Linked DNA regions of Homo sapiens: regions 2 and 3 are each linked to region 1. Evidence: fine-mapped expression QTL. A gene starts in region 1. Each other region holds a variant in brackets. All regions are shown on one strand. Distances are from middle to middle.

Evidence for each region.
Region 2: its variant is fine-mapped to the expression of DTX2 in whole blood (TOPMed, PIP above 0.99).
Region 3: its variant is fine-mapped to the expression of DTX2 in T cells (TOPMed, PIP above 0.99).

What each region holds. Positions count from the first base shown.
Region 1 is chr7:76,458,409-76,464,067 of GRCh38, reverse strand. DTX2 (deltex E3 ubiquitin ligase 2) reads right to left here and starts at 2,359. Exons shown (of 11, transcript NM_001102594.3): 1 at 2,232-2,359; 2 at 359-523.
Region 2 is chr7:76,429,063-76,434,721 of GRCh38, reverse strand. It overlaps ZP3 (zona pellucida glycoprotein 3), which reads right to left. Exons shown (of 8, transcript NM_001110354.2): 2 at 5,089-5,207; 3 at 1,692-1,795; 4 at 1,075-1,252; 5 at 567-684. Among named protein-coding and RNA genes, the nearest start is that of ZP3, 6.9 kb to the right of the region's middle. The variant G/A (reference allele first, on the strand shown) is at 2,249.
Region 3 is chr7:76,422,617-76,428,275 of GRCh38, reverse strand. It overlaps ZP3 (zona pellucida glycoprotein 3), which reads right to left and starts at 3,326. Exons shown (of 8, transcript NM_001110354.2): 1 at 3,000-3,326. The coding sequence starts at 3,311. RefSeq lists a silencer at 3,930-4,224. The variant G/C (reference allele first, on the strand shown) is at 2,704.

The DNA.
Region 1 (5,659 bases):
GCTTTGTCTTTTCCACCAAACAATGCACTCCCAAAAGACAGAGATCTTATCTGGCACCCAGTAAGGGTTTATGCAACAAAAGAAATGAAAACTGCCACTTCAAATGCAGAAATCGTGACTTGTGTCTTCTATCCCATAAAGCATGTCTTAAAGTGGAAAGCATCTTCTAAGACTAGTTAGTTAAACAGGAGAAGCAGTGGCAAGACGCCACTGCAATTTATTTGAGACAGGTGGCAATCAACAGTCAACTCCCAGGGCACACGTTTATCCTGCAGACCTCAAATTCCACCCTCCCCAATCCCCACCTTCTCTGCACCAGATAGAGAAGGCAGCAAGGTCAAGTCCCCATGGCTCTCACCTTTTCTCTCTGGAGAGCTGGCACAAACTGTCCCTTCTGGATGAAGACACCAGCTCCTTAGGAGGAATGACTTGTTTGAGTTCCCATCTTGATACAAACCACAAACAACAAAAACCGGGCAAATCTGAAAGGCTTGCTGACTCAGCGACACAAATTCCAAGGCACCTTTGCCAACGAGGAAGAAGATGATCAGGTTTTAAATTAAGAAACAGCAGTTAGTAAAAACAAAGGTACAGATGTTGGATCCGTGTGCTGTGCCTGGGGACTGAAAATCACCAGATTTATTTTCCAATAGCCTGGGTGGAGCAGGAGGTACAACAGTCTTCCTCCACCCACTTAACAATCAAGGAGATGGTTGAAGAAACAACAAAAAGCAAACAAACAAAAAAACCCTGAGCTCTTTTTAAAATTTTTTATTATTATTAGTTTTTGGAGACGGAGTCTTGCTCTGTCACCCAAGCTGGAGTGCAGTGGCGTGATCTCGGCTCACTGCAGCCTCCGCCTCCCAGGTTCAAGCTACTCTCCTGCCTCAGCTTCCCGAGTAGCTGGGATTATAGGCTCGAGTCACCACGCCTGGCTCTGAGCCCTTTTCTTAAAAAAAAAAAAAAGTTCGTTTTTTTAGTTTGTTTGTTTTTTGTTTTTTGAGACGGGGTCTCCCTCTGTCGCCCATGCTGCAGTGCAGTGGTGTGATCACAGCTCACTGCAGCCTCCAACTCCTGGGCTCAAGCGATCCTCCTGCCTCAGCCTCCCAAGTAGCTGGGACTACAGGCACCCACCAACACGCCCATCTGATTTTTTATAGAGACAGTGATCTCAGGAATCCTCTTCGTTTCCCAGGCTTGTCTCAAATTCCTGGACTCAAATGATCCTTCCACCTCGGCCTCCCAAAGGGCTGGGATTACAGGCATGAGCCACCGTGCCTGGCCTGAGCCCTTTTACAGAAAACTCTAAAAGGACTTCATAAGCCAGTCTGGCAGCTAAGCATCCAGGAAATCAACACACCAGAGAGGGTAAATATTTAAGGTCACAGAGCAACCGAATCAGAGGGCTTGCTATCCGGATGGCTTAAGCCCGGATGGTGGCTACCAGAAAGTCTACCTTCTAGAGCGCTAGAGGAGCTAGGAAGGCATGCAGAAATATTCTGAGTTTCTCAAGGGTCCAGGCGTCTGTACACATGCTATTTATTTCCATCGCTGTTGGCGCTTAGAGAAGTGGAGCCAGCTTGGAGGAGGAGGGCAGCTGGCTGAGACAGTCGCGATGAAAGCGCAGCTCCAGAAAAGGGAACCGAGTTCTAAATCTTTTTCGGCACCCCTTACGCACCCCAAAAAGTGACCCAGGGCCCCAGGAACTCCTGGGAAGACCCCCCACAGGAAAGCAGGGAAGCAGAGTTAGGAAGCAAACTCCTCCAAAGTACAACCCCCGGCCCAGTGAGTCCCTTCACCTGGGGGTAGACCCCAGCAGGACCAACCCCTCGTCAGGGAGCCGGTGGCAATCTCGTCACCCCCTCCTCTGGGTACTTTGGGAAGGGGTGCGCGCCTTCCGAGCGACCCGGAACCGCGCCCCTCCGCCTGCGAGCCCCTCAGCCTTCATCCGAACGTCCCCTTTCGCACCCGGCACCCTGTCCCGTCCAAAGCTGCCGGCGCCTCCCAAGTCCCCCAACTCTCGCCCTCAGGACCTTGATCCCGGAGACCGATCCCCCCGACACCCCCGATCTCCCGGGACCCCCGGGTGTCCCCGCCGCCCCGGCCGTCGGTCCCCCTCACACCCACGCCCGCCCCCTTCCGGTCCCAGCTAGGCTCCGGCTCCCCGCGCCACCCCGCGCCCCTGGGACCGCAGCCCTAGCGACGCGCAGGTGGCCTTCCCGCCCTCTCACCGAGGCTGAGGAGGACAAGAGGACGGGGCTGAGGGCACCACCGCGCTCGGGCTGCAGCTCCGGCTCGGCCTGGGCAGGGCTCTGGCTGTGGCTCCGACTCTCAGGAGAAGGCAGCCAGAGTGAAACTCGGCGTCGCAGCTTCCGAGCGAGCCGCTGCGCATGCCCGGGGCGTGCGGCCTTCTGGGAAATGTAGTCCCGGTAGGGCCCAGGGGCGGGCAGAAGGCGGGGCTCAGCGGGGAAGGGCTCAACCCAAGGCGCACCTGCTCCGGTCTATGTTTTCTTCCTTCGCCTGCTCACTCATTGACTTATTCCTTCATTAATTACTGACTTAATTTTAACTAGTTTTTACTAGTACATACATGGTGCCAGTACATACATGTGCTACTGTTTCTCTTTTTTTGTTTTTAAAATTAATTTTATTTTTCTTTTTTGTACAGATGGGGGTTTTGCAATGCTGCAACGTTGCTCAGGCCGATCTCAAACTCCTGGCCTCAAGCGATCCTCTTGCTTCATTCAGCCTCCCAAAGCACTGGGGTTGCAAGTGTGAGCCATCGAGCACAACCTTTTTAAATTTAAATTTTTGTCTTTTTCTTTTCTTTTTTTCTCTCTTTCTTTCCTATTTATTTTTAATATTTATTTATTTATTTAGCTACTGTGTAGTGGGAGTGCGGGAGTGAATAGGTGAATCAGAAATGGTTTCTTGGCTGGGCGCAGTGGCTCATGCCTGTAATCCCTGCACTTTGAGAGGCAGAGGTGGGCGGATCACCTGAGGTCGGGAGTTCCAGACCAGCCTGGCCATCATGGCGAAACCCCGTCTCTACTAAAAATACCAAAAAAAACTAGCCGGGCGTGGTGGCTCGTGCCTGTAATCCCAGCTACTCGGGAGGCTGAGGCAAGAGAATCGCTTGAACCCGGGAGGCAGAGGCTGTAGTGAGCCAAGATCGCGCCATTGCACTCCAGCCTGGGCGACGGAACAGGAATCCCTCTCAAAAGAAAAAAAAAAAAAGACGAAGAAGAAGAAAAAAGAAAAAGAAAAGGTTTCTCGCCGGGAGCGGTGGCTCACGCCTGTAATCCCAGCACTTTGGGAGGCCGAGGCAGCCAGATCACAAGGTCAAGAGATTGAGACCATCCTGGCCAACATGGTGAAACCCCGTCTCTACTAAAAATACAAAAATTAACTGGGTGTGGAGGCCGGGCGCAGTGGCTCACGCCTGTAATCCCAGCACTCTGGGAGGCCGAGGCGGGCGGATCACGAGGGCAGGAGATCGAGACCACGGTGAAACCCCGTCTCTACTAAAAATACAAAAAAAAAAAAAAATTAAGCGGGCGTAGTGGTGGGCTCCTGTAGTCCCAGCTACTCGGGAGGCTGAGGCAGGAGAATGGCGTGAACCCGGGAGGCGGAGCTTGCAGTGAGCCGAGATTGTGCCACTGCACTCCAGCCTGGGTGACAGAGCGAGACTCCGTCTCAAAAAAAAAAAAAAATAATAATAATAATAATAATTAACTGGGTGTGGTGGCGCGTGCCTGTAATCCCAGCTACTTGGAAGACTGAGGCAAGAGAATCACTTGAACCCTGGAGGTGGAGGTTGCACTGAGCCAAGATTGTGCCACTGCACTCCAGCCTGGACGACACAGTGGGAATCTGTCTCAAAAAAAAAAAAAAAAAAAAGAAAGAAAAGAAAAGAAAAGAAAGAAAGAAGAAAAGAAAAGGATTTCTTTCCTGGGAAAGCTTTGTATCTAGTTGGAAAGTCCGGCACTTAAACACACAATTACGATATAGTGGGGAAAATGTTTGGATAAAGGAGGGCATAGAAGGGTATGCCTAACTTGAGGGTGGGGAGAAGACATCACAAGACAGATAAAGGCTATGTGGGTTTTTCAGTCCATAGAGAAATTTGCCAGTTGGAGCATAGGGAAGCTCTTGTAAAGCAAGAGAGATGTGAAAGTGCCTCATGCACTCCGGAGGCAGCACAAAGTTCCTGGTGGCCAGGGCAGAGGACACATGGAGGGAAGGGAGTGAGGAAGGAGAAAATGCACTAGGCTATAGCAGGATCTGAGGAGTGTGGGGAGAAGCCGGGGTAAGATTATGATGAATTTTAGATAATGTGAGTGTTTGCACATGTGTGCACATACTATGTATGTTGAATATTATGTATACAGTTTCAGGGGGATCAAGGTCCTCTGAATCTTGGAGGACCAAGTACCCAGTTAAAGATACTTACCTGGAATGACATTATCCTAAGGTCATTGATCCTTTATCAGGGATTTTTATTTTCCTTTTTTTTTTTTTTGAGACGAGTTTTGCTCTTGTTGTCCAGGCTGGAGTGAAATGGCACAATCTCGGCTCACTGCAACCTCCGCCTCCCAGGTTCAAGTGATTCTCCTGCCTCACCTCCCGAGTAGCTGGGATTACAGGCATGCACCACCACACTCAGCTAATTTTTGTATATATATATATTTTTGAGACGGAGTCTTGCTCTGTCGCCCAGGCTGGAGTGCAATGGCACAATCTCAGCTCACTGCAAACTCCGCCTCCCAGGTTCAAGCAATTCTTCCTCAGCCTGCCGAGTAACTGTGATTACAGGCGGATGCCACCATGCCCAGCTAATTTTTGTATTTTAGTAGAGACAGGGTTTCACCATGTTGGCCAGGCTGGTCTTGAACTCCTGACCTCGTGATCTGCCCACCTCGGTCTCCCAAAGTACTGGGATTACAGATGTGAGCCACCGCATCCGGGCTAATTTTTGTATTTTTAGTAGAGACAGAGTTTCACCATGTCAGCCAGGCTGATCTCAAACTCCTGACCTCAGGTAATCTGCCCACTGCAGCCTTCCAAAGTGCTGGGATTACAGGTGAGGGCCACCGCATCCGGCCAGAGTTCCATTTTTAAAATCTGAAAAGACGGACTATTTTTATTTGGGAAAAATAAAGAGTTCTGGTTGTGAAAAGAAGTAAAATAGGACAGTATCAAGAGGGAGAGTGGGGGGCATGGACTTTTGTATTTTAGACAGGAGAGAGAAGAGTGTGCTGACTTCTGAAATTGCAGCAGGATGTCTGCCCCCTGGGAACCTGGAAATGAGGGAAACAGGCTTGGCCACTTGCAAAGTGAACTTTAAACTAATATACGTAGCAAAGGGCCAGAGACAAAAGAACTGCCTGGTAGGAGGGGGCTGGTTAAATAACCCCGGAACACTAGGTAGCCCTAGAAGGAATGAGGAAGACTCACAGTGGCCTAGATCTATTGTTAAACCAAAAAGGAACTTTGAGCCAGGCAAGGCGGCTCATGCCTATAATCCCAGCACTTTGGGAGGCGGAGGCAGGTGGATCACCTGAGATCAGGAGTTCAAGACCAGTCTGGCCAACATGGTGAAACCTCGTCTCTACTAAAAATACAAAAATTAGCTGGGTGCAGCGGTGCACACCTGTAA
Region 2 (5,659 bases), 29 kb after region 1:
CCTGGCTACGAAGTTCACACTGGTTTTCTTTGCCCCTGCAGAAAGCCTCCAGGAAGGCTAACACCTGCCTTTTTTTTTTTTTTTGGAGATGGAGTCTCACTGTCACTCAGGCTGGAGGTGCAGTGGCACAATCTCTGCTCACTGCAACCTCTGCCTCCCAGGTTCAAGCTATTCTCCTGCTTCAGCCTCCCAGGTAGCTGGGATTACAGGTACCCAACCACCACACTCAGCTAATTTTTTTTGTATATTTAGTAGAGTCGGGGTTTTACTATGTTGGCCAGGCTGGTCTTGAACTCCTGACCTCAAGTGATCCACCCCCCTCGGCCTCCCAAAGTATTGGGATTACAAGCATGAGCCACCGTGCCCGGCCTCTACCTCTTAAGGCTTCATATTGTTCATCCTTCTGCTTGAAGGCCTCGCTAAAGCTCATGGCTTTACTTGTAAGTTTGAGTTACTGGGACACAGCTCTAAGTCATTTGCTTAGGGGTGGAGCTAGTGAGTGACCCCATTCAGTAGGATATGAAGGTTGCAAGTTCAGCCTTCTTTCAGGCTGTTAAAGCTCTTACCATGTTTCTGGAGTCATTAGCAAAGTGGAAGACATCCACTGTGAACTGGAGTGTATCTGGCCCGGGTCGAGGAACTTTGAATGCAGAAGAGGCATCAGTGAGACCGTCGACAAGACAGCTTGGAAGAAAACAGAACGGTATTAAAGCCAGACAGGTGGGCCGGGCACCGTGGCTCACGCCCATAATCCCAGCACTTTGGGAGGCCAAGGTGGGTGGATCACTTGAGGTCAGGAGTTCGAGACTAGCCTGGCAAACATGGTGAAACCTTGTCTCTACTAAAAATACAAAAATTAGCCAGGCATGGTGATGGGCACCTGTAATCTCAGCTACTTGGGGGGCTGAGGCAGGAGAATCACTTAAACCTGGGAGGCAGAGGTTGCAGAGGGCAGAGATCAAGCCTCTGTATTCCAGCCTGGGTTACAGAGTGACACTGTCTCAAAAAGCCAAACAGGTGGCTTTAGGGTCATTTTGCTAGGAAGGTTCTCTAGGCAGGGAGCCCAGTGCTCACCCATGGAAGTCCACGATGGTGTGATAAGGGGAGGCATTCTGGTCTGGTGTCGGTGTGGCCACGCAGTGGTCCACAAACAACCGCAGTGGCACGTGGCTGCCAGTGTGGATTTCTGCCTGGAGGTGGGCTGCATCTCCCAGGTGGAAGGTGGGGGACCTCTTCTCAGCGTTCCAGTTCTCTGAAAGACACAGTCAGCTGGGCATGGTGGCTCATGCCTGTAATCCCAGCACCTTGGGAGGCTGAGGCAGGTGGATCACCTGAGGTCAGGAGTTCGAGACCAGCCTAGCCAACGTGGCAAAACCCCATCTCTACTAAAAATAGAAAAGTTAGCTGGGTGTGGTGTCAGAAGCCTGTAGTCCCAGTTACTCGGGAGGCTGAGGCAGGAGAATCGTTTGAACCCCAGGAGGTGGAGACTGCAGTGAGCTGAGATCGTGCCACTGCACTCCAGCCTGGAGGTCAGATCAAGACTGTCTCAAAAACCAACCAAAACCAACCAAAACCAACCAAAACCAACCAAAACCAAAACCAAACAAACAAAAAAAAGACACAGCCAAGGGCAGGGGTCTGAGATGGCCCAGGTCTTTCCACAGATGTCCCACCCAGCCTTCTTCTCTTACCCTCCATCAGACGCAGAGAGAAAGTCAGCTTCTCCTCTGAGAACACCGTGGTCCTGAAGGGCAACCAGGTGGGCAGGATGGCCTGGCTGCTCACATTGCCCTGCCTGAGAGAAGAACAGCAGCTGTGCACACCTGCCTCAGGTCACACCCACCTGGGCCCCCACTGATGGGGAGTATCTCACTGCTACCCCACTACAGGGTCCTCAGCTATGGCCCAGCCAGGTAGCTGGTGCGAGATGGCTGAACAGACACCTTGAGCCTGAGGCTGCCCCTGCACCCTCCTGAACTTCTGCACCTGTGAGTGGCCTAGCCATCCTAACTGATGCTATGATGCTATCTGGGCCGCTGAAGACAGATACAGCTGAACCTAGGAGTTTGGTTTCTAGACTGAGATCTGCTCCCTCTTGAGCCCTGGACCTGAGTGCGGTGGCTCATGCCTGTAATCCCAGCACTTTGGGAGGTGGAGACTGGAGGATTGCCTGAGGCTAGGAGTTTGAGAGCAGCCTGGACAACATAGCAAGACTCTATCTCTATAAAAAAGAAAAGAGGCCAGGCAC[G/A]GTGGCTCAAGCCTATAATCCCAGCAGTTTGAGAGGCCGAGGCGGGCGGATCATGAGGTCAGGAGATCGAGACCATCCTGGCTAACATGGTGAAACCCCATCTCCACTAAAAATAAAATTATCCGGGCATGGTGGCGGGCGCCTTTAGTCCCAGCTACTTGGGAGGCTGAGGCAGGAGAATGGCGTGAACCTCGGAGGTGGAGTTTGCAGTGAGCTGAGATCACACCACTGCACTCCAGCCTGGGCAACAGAGCAAGACTCCATCTCAAAAAAAAAAGAAAAGAAAAGAAAAGATAGCTGGGCATAGTAGTACATACCAGCTACTCAGGAGGCTGAGATGGGAGGATTGCTTGAGCCCAGGAGGTCAAGGCTGCAGTGAACTATGATGGCACCCCACTGCACTCCAGCCTGGGCGGCAGAGTAAGACTTTTTTTTTTTAAACAAAAAACCAAAAGCCACCACACATACTTTAGCCCTAGAGGTTCAGGTTTGGGGTCTGATAGCAGGCCCTGCACAGTACTCCACAGGATGCTTGAGAGGGGAATCAGCTAAGGCCATCTTTTTTTTTTTTTTTTGAGACGGAGTCTCACTTTGTCTCCCAGGCTGGAGTACAGTGGCACGATCTCGGCTCACTGCAAGCTCCACCACCCAGGTTCACGCCATTCTCCTGCCTCAGCCTCCCAAATAGCTGGGACTACAGGCACCCGCCACTAGGCCTGGCTAATTTTTTGTATTTTTAGTAGAGACGGGGTTTCACCACGTTAGCCAGGATGGTCTCCATCTCCTGACCTCATGATCCGCCCGCCTCGGCCTCCCAAAGTGCTGGGATTATAGGCGTGAGCCACCATGCCCAGCCAAGGCCATCCTTTAGAGATCAAAGACAGGCCCTTAGGTCTTGAGATGCTACCGAGAGCCTGGACCCACACCAGTGACTGGGAAGTCCATGGAAGCAGGTCTGGGTATCTGCAGATACCTACCCTGCTAACCCCATAGGATCTGCTGGAAGAAGCTACTCCAAGTGATGGATGCATCTATTGATAACCAGACTCAGGTATCTGGAGCCAGGTTAAAGCATCCCAGCCTACAACCAGCCTCTCTAATACTACCTACAGCCAATGGACCAGGTGAGCCACCATCCTCAGGGGTCAGGCCCAGAGACTGAAGTCAGACTTCCACGGTCACAGGACAGCTTCAGTCCCTCATGCCGACTGGGCAGCCTGCCCTTGACTCCTCTATCCTCCTCCATCTCCCCTACCCACATAGGCACCAAGCTCCTCCAACTGCTCTTAGCTCCTGCGAGTCAGCCTCTACGGTCCCTGCAACCATGGGTCAGGCCTCATTGAATCCCAGTTTTCCAGCCTCCCAGCTGGTTCTCACTAGTTCCCATTTGTCTTCAGCACCAGCCACCAGGTGACCCTGGGTGGAGATTCAGTCCTCACCCATTCCAGGAGGGGCACCTGTGGTGAGGCTGGTGAGCCCATCTGTCTGGCTCCCTCATTACCCCAGTCCCTGGGCTCCAGCCCCCAGGCTGCATGTCACCTACTAAGGGCACACTACCCTCCCGTTGGGTGTGTGGCCACATGGCTCTGCCCAGGCCATCTCAGCCTCAAGGTCCCCCACTCCAGGATCCTGTTCTAGGATAACCCCTACCATGACCCCTCCCAGGGGCATGGCTCATCCCTCATGATGTCCTGACTGGTATCAGCTCCCTACCCACTTCACACTAGCATTTTCTTTTTGAGATGGAGTCTTGCTCTGTTGCCCAGGCTGGAGTGCAATGGTGCCATCTCAGCTCACTGCAACCTCTGCATCCTGGGTTCAAATGATTCTCCTGCCTCAGCCTCCTGAGTAGCTGAGATTACAGGCACGCGCTACCACACTCGGCTAATTTTTTTGTGTTTTTAGTAGAGATGGGTTTCACCATGTTGGCCAGGCTGGTCCTGAACTCCTTACCTCGTGAGCTGCCCACCTTGGCCTCCCAAAGGGCTGGTATTACAGGCGTGAGCCACCATACCTGGCCGCATCATCTTATACCCACTCCCAGACTGGTTCAAGGGCAGGGACAAAGTCCCCTGCACCCCATGCTGAGGCCAGCACAGGACCCAGTGTTGTCCTTGGGAGCCATAGTTTCTCCTCCCACTTCAGGGCCTGAGTTCACAGGCACGTGCTTGATGCCAGGGGCTTGAGGACCACAGAAGAGTAGGCCACCACCGCCCAGGTCAGATTCTAGAACGCAGCCTAGCACTATTTTATTATTATTTTTTGCGATGGAGTATCGCTTTGTTGCCCAGAATGGAGTACAGCAGTGCAATCTCGGCTCACTGCAGCCTCTGCCTCCTGGGTTCAAGCAATTCTCCTGCCTCAGCCTCCCAAGTAGCTGGGATTATAGACACCCGGCTAATTTCTGTGTTTTTAGTAGAGATGGGGTTTCACCATGTAGGCCAGACTGGTCTTGAACTCCTTGACCTCAAGCGATCCACCTGTCAGCCTCCCAAAGTGCTAGGATTACAGGATGAGCCACTGCACCTGGCCCCAGCCTAGCACTATTGGAAGGCCATTTCTGAACCCTAAGGGCCGAGGCTGGCATAGTACCACCACCAGGGCTGAGCAGCTCTGAAGCTTCCGCTAAGCTGCAGTTGGGCTCCTGATACTCTTCTGGGGCTCGAACTAGACTCAGCAGGCCCCACAATCCCACGCAGTACAGTAACCACAGCTGCAAATGCTTCGGTAGGTAGTTCTAATAGCCATGCTGCAAGCTGTAGCCCATAGCCAGCCCACTTGCCTGCAGCCACACCCAAGGGGCTTTTGCACCAGGGGCCATGAGTCAGTCCCACACCGACCTGGGGTAGCGGCACTCGATGGGAATCTCTGCGCGGTTAGTCCTCACGATGGACAGGTTTCCCACGGGGCGGGGGTCATGGAGCAGGAAGGTGCTGTACACCAGGGCATCGTCAGTTACCTGGAGGAAAGGTGAGAAGTTAATGCTGCCGGCCATCACCTGCCCGGGTACTCCCAAGCCATACCTGAGTGCTCAGGGAGGGCAGCCCACAAGGGGACAGAAAGACCACAGGGTCAAGGCCAGGTGCAGTGACTCATGCCTGTAACCCCAGCACTTTGGGAGGCCAAGGATTGCTTGAGGCCAGGAGTTTGAGACTGGCCTGGGAAACATAGCAAGACCCCATCTCTACAAAAGAGAACACAGGCTCTGCCACTGGTCAGGAAAGAGGCAGGACAGGTACTGTCTTTGTACCTCGGAATCTTTACCTGACACCACATATTGACACCACCACAGGCAGACTGGATCAACCACATGGCAGATACCATGTAACACCCAAGCAATAGAGGCATCAGGGCACATGACACATCCCTTCTGACACTCCCCCTCCATGCCCCCCAGTACATACAGTTTCC
Region 3 (5,659 bases), 36 kb after region 1:
GAACTCGGCTCACTGCAACCTCCGCCTCCCAGGTTCAAGCAATTCTCTGCTTCAGCCTCTGAGTAGCTGGAATTACAGGCACGTGCCACCGTGCCTTTTTTTTTTTTTTTTAAATAGAGACAGGGTTTCGCCATGTTAGCCAGGCTGGTCTCGAACTCCTGGCCTCAGGTGATCCACCTGCCTCAGCCTCCCAAAGTGCTGGATTACAGGTGTGAGCCACCATGACTCAACCCCCAACCACCTATTCTAAGCTCACTATCCCCACCTCTCATCTCAGGGAGCTTATTTAAAAACTACTTGAGGGCTGGGTGCAGTGGCTCATGCCTGTAATCCCAGCACTTTGGGAGGGAAGAGGATTGCTTGAGGCCAGGAAGTCACGACCAGCCTGGGCAATAGAGCTAGACCCCATCTCTACAAAAACATAACTTGGCTGGGCACGGTGGCATGTGCCTGTAGTCCATCCCAGCTATTCAGGAGGCTGAGGCAGGAGGATGGCTTGAGCCTAGGAGGTCGAAGTTGCCCAAGAGCTCAGGTGGCTGCCTGGCCCTGACCAAACTCGATCTTCAGGGAATAGTCCTAGACCTTATTAGCAAGTGCCCCAGCACAGACAGAACCAGCATAGCTCGTGGGGCCCCTTATTCAAAAGTTATTACCATTTCAGGGCAAGAGGGCATTCCATTAAGCACTGGGCCCCACAGAACTGCACAGGTTGTATACCTGGGAAACTGGCCATGGCTGTATTTTTTTTTTTTTTTTTTTTGAGACGGAGTCTCACTCTGTTGCCCAGGCTGGAGTGCAGTGGCACGATCTCAACTCACTGCAACCTACGCCTCCCGGGTTCAAGCAATTCTCTGCCTCAGACTCCTGAGTAGCTGGGATTACAGGTGCCCGCCACCACACCCGGCTAACTTCTTTGTATTTTTAGTAGAGATGAGGTTTCACCATCGTGGCCAGGCTGGTCTTGAACTCCTGACCTCGTGATTCACCCGCCTCGGCCTCCCAAAGTGCTGGGATTACAGGCGTGAGCCACTGCGCACGGCCAGCCGCAGGTGATTCTCACCGGGCAAAACTGGGAAACACCACACCAGAGGAAGGAGTTTGCAGGCTTTGCTCCTCATTGGAGTCACCTGAGATCCTTATTACCCACAGCTGGTCCCACATCCTTTCTATTTTAGCAGCCTGGACATCAGGATTTTTAGAAGCTCCACAGGTGGGGTTAATAAAAGAGGGTCTTGCTCTGCCTTCCAGGCTGGAATGCAGTGGCACAATCGTAGCTCACTGCAGCCTCCAAATCATGGGTTTAAGCAATCCTCCCACTTCAGCCTCCCAAGTAGCTGAGACTAAAGGCAGGCGCCACCACACCCTATTGTGTGTGTGTGTGTGTGTGTGTGTGTGTGTGTGGTGTTTGGTAGAGAAGGGGGTCTCATTATGTTGCCCAGGGTGGCCTTAAACTCCCGGGCCCAAGTGATCCTCCCATCTCAGCCTCCCAAAGTGCTGGGATTATAGGCGCCATTGCACTCCAGCCTGGGCAATAAGAGCAAAACTGTCTCAAAAAACAAAAACAACAACAAAAAAATACCACTTATCAGCTTCTAACCTATTAAAGCCCATTTCACAGAAGGGGGGGGAGCCAGGCACCTGGCTCCCCAAGTAAATCTAAGACATGTTTGTGAGCCTCTAAACTGGAATAATTCCTCAAGTAACTCCTGCAGCTCTCTGGCCTCCCTCCCCAGGAAAACAAGGGCCTCGAGTCCTCAAAGAGAGCCCAGGAGACCACAGTTAAGACCAGAGCTCTGGCCGGAGGGCTCCAGGGGCTGGACTTGCCCCCATCCCAGGCAAGCTACTGGGTCTAGGCCCAGGTGAGGAGGAGCCAGGTTCCCCTGAGGCGGGAGAGGACAGGCCCTCCATGGGACCACAGGAACTTGGTCCAGGGATCAGGGTTTAGCTGGGGAGCTGTGTGCCCAGCCCTGCCCTGCCGTAAGGCCTCTCCTTGCAGCCTCTTTCCCCACTGGCTAGGGAAAGGGAGGTCTGGCCTGGATTTCTTGGTCTTTTCCTGCATGTACCACAGGTTAAGCCTCTCCCCCTTGGAGCTGCCCCCAGGGACCCACTGATGCTTTTAAGGTCTTTAACACCAAGGTTATGATGCCCCCGCCCCCATACCACTTATCTATGTGGAATTTTTTTTTTTTTTTTGAGCCAGAGTCTCGCTCTGTTGCCTAGGCTGGAGTGCAGTGGCACAATCTCAGCTCACTGCAACCTTTGCCTCCTGGGTTCAAGCGATTCTCCTGCCTCAGCCTCCTGAGTAGCTGGGATTACAGACACGCACCACCATGCCTGGCTAATTTTTGTATTATTAGTAGAGATGGGGTTTCACCATGTTGGCCAGGCTGGTCTCAAACTCCTCAGCCTCCCAAAGTGCTGGAATTACAGGCGTGAGCCACCACACCAGGCCCCAGTTAGTTTTTTTAAAGGCTTAAGAGATGGGGTCTCACTATGTTGCCCAGGCTGGCCTCAAACTCCTGGCCTCAAGTGATCCTCCAGTCTTGGCCTCCCATAGTGCTGGGACTACAGGCATGAGCCACTGCACCCGGCCCACTTGTTGTTTTTAAGATAATGTATACTTTGGGTCTCTTCAGGATGAGTTCCTAATGCCCCCAGCCTTAGAAACAGCCCCTTAGGCTACCCACAGGGCTATCCTATCAC[G/C]CAGGCCTGTGTGTGTCACAAACCCACCTGAGAGAGAGTGGCGTGGCTTGGGCCAGCCTGAAGTGCACGGCCACCTCTGGCTCCACCCCATCGACCCAATGTCGGGCATCAGAGGCAGGAGCTGCCCTGGGTCCGGTGACCTCAGTGCCAGCTTCAGGCCTCAACTGGGCCACCTCCCCACCTACAAGTGAGAGGGATCCACCCAACCCCACCTCCCACCGATGGTGGCCACAGTCCCCATACCCGGCTGCCTCGAACATCCTCCCACCAAAGCCAGGGCCCCCAGCCTCTCTTACCTGCATGCTGTTGCCACACTCGTGGAGTCCAACCTCAAACCTGACCACATCTTCTGTGTCCATGGAGACCAGAGGCTCACAGGCCTCTGGGCCCAAGGTGAGGTCAGCAGCCCTGATGAGCTTCCCGGTGCCAAAAAGGTCTTTGCTGACCATGACCATCAGAGTGGCCTCCTGACACTCCACCAGTACGGGCTGTACGGACGTCTCAGGATGGCTGGCTCCACCCTGCAAGAGCCAGAGGGGTTGGGGGTAGCACAGCTCAGTACTACCCCAGAGCAGGAGGCAGATGAAGAGCCTATAGCTCAGCTCCATGGTACCTGCAGAGCAGCAGGCAGCCGCCTCTGGCCATCTTATACCCGTGGGATGCTGGCTGCTGCCACCTGGGCTCTCAGCTTCTCAGCTGCCTCCCTTCCCTAGCCAGCTGGGCCCTTGTTGCATAAAGTGGTCTCCATCCAGAAGCATCAGTAACACCTGGGAGCTTGTTAGAACTGCAAACTCTCAGCCTTCACCCCAGCATGACCACAGCAGAATTTGGTTTTTAGCTTGGAAATCCCCCACGTGTATCCACATTAAAGTTTTTTTTTGCTGTGTGTGTGTGTGTTTGTGGTTTGTTTGTTTTTGTTGTGTTTTGTTTTGTTTTGAGACAGAGTCTCACTCTGTTGTCCAGGCTGGAGTGCAGTGGTATGATCTCGTTTCACTGCATCCTCCACTTCTCAGCCAGGTTCAAGTGATTCTCCTGCCTCAGACTCCCAAATAGCTGGGATTACAGGAAGGCATGCGCCACCGCGCCTGGCTAATTTTTGTATTTTTGGTAGAGACAGGGTTTCACTATGTTGGGCAGGCTGGTCTTGAAGTCCTGACCTCCAGTGATCCTCCTGCCTCAGCCTCCCAAAGTGCTGGGATGACAGGTGTGAGCCACCGCGCCCGCCCCAGCCCACTTGAAAGTTTTTAGCTTGTAAATCCCCATGTGTATTCATGTAAAAGTTTGCAAAGAGTGTGCTGCCTGCCTGGTGCACCACAATGTATCACAGCTTCCCTCCGATCCCCTGCTGGCCCTGCCCTTAGGAAGCTCGCAGCCCGGCAAGGGAGCTGTCCCAGGTCTGTGGGGGACACAGGAGAAAGCCCTTGATTGAAGAGTCAGGGGGATTAGATCTGAGACATAAGGAGCTCATTCCAAGTGTGAGAAAAAGGAGGCGGTATCAATTAGGAGACAGGAGGAATTTCATGGGTCTCTGCCTTATTTTATGGGAGGCCGGGGGGTAGGTCAGTTCAGGCAGAGGCAGCTGTGTGAAGAGAGGTGGAGAAGGGGCCCTGCGTTCTTCATTCCTGGGTGAATCCCCCGGAGTTCATACTGAGACACAGCAGAAGCGGGGCTTGGCTTCAGCTCACCCCGACCAGGGCATTCTTTTTTTTTTTTGAGACAATCTCACTCTGTTGCCCAGGCTGGAGTGTAGTGGTGCAATCTCAGCTCACTGCAGCCTCCGCCTCCCAGGTTCAAGCAATTCTTCTGCCTTACTCTCCCGAGTAACTGGGATTACAGGCTTGTTCCACCATGCCCAGCTCCTCACCACAAGGGATCCGCCCACCTCAGTCTCCCAAAGTGCTGGGATTACAGACATGAGCCACCACACCTGGCCCAACCACTGCATTCTTTCCTGCATTCCCAGTGATCACCAGACCCATACCACGATTTCACTGACATCATCATGTGGAAACATGCCTATTACTTAAGAGAATCCCAGGAACTGACCTTAGGAGATTCAAATATCAAACCAAGGTTGTGGAGTGTCCCACCTCAGGAAGGAATGCTGAACTGATTGACAGCCTTGTTGCCACCAGCCAGACTACCAGGTGGCCCATAACTCAAGATAACCATGGCAACCAGATAATGCCAACCTGCATACCTTCACGTGCTTTGCCCAGCACAGCCGGCATGCCCTATCCCTGATGTAAATTCCCATGCTTTGCCTAATAAAAAAGCCCTCCTGGCTCTTTTTGGAGAGTCAGATAGAAAAATCTCTATATCTTTCCCTCTCTCTCTCTCTTTCCCTCTCTCTCTCTCTTTCCCTCTCTCTCCCTCTCTCTTTCCCTCTCTCTCCCTCTCTCTCTCATGCTGCCTCCTTTATGTCTGGGCATAAGCTCCAATGAAGCTTTGTCTAGGAAAACTCGTTTAGCCTCCTGTCAATTTCTTTTCTTTCTTTCTTTCTTTCTTTCTTTCTTTCTTTCTTTCTTTCTTTCTTTCTTTCTTTCTCTCTCTCTCTCTCTCTCTTTCTTTCTTTTGAGACAGGATCTCATTCTGTCGCCCAGGCTGGAGTGCAGTGGTGCTATCTCGACTCACTGCAACCTCCGCCTCCTGGGTTCAAGTGATTCTCCACCTCAGCCTCCCGAGTAGCTGGGATTACAGGCACCCGTCACCATGCCCGGCTAACTTTTGTATTTTTAGTAAAGACGGGGTTTCACCATGTTGGCCAGGCTGGTCTCGAACTCTGGACCTCAAGTGATTCTCCCTCCTCGGCCTCCCAAAGTGCTGGGATTACAGGTGTGAGCCACTGTGCCTGGCCCTCATGTTAATTTCTTTTCTTTCTTTTTTTTTTTTTTGAGACGGAATCTTGCTCTGTCGCCCAGGCTGGAGTGCAGTGGCGCGATCTCAGCTCACTGCA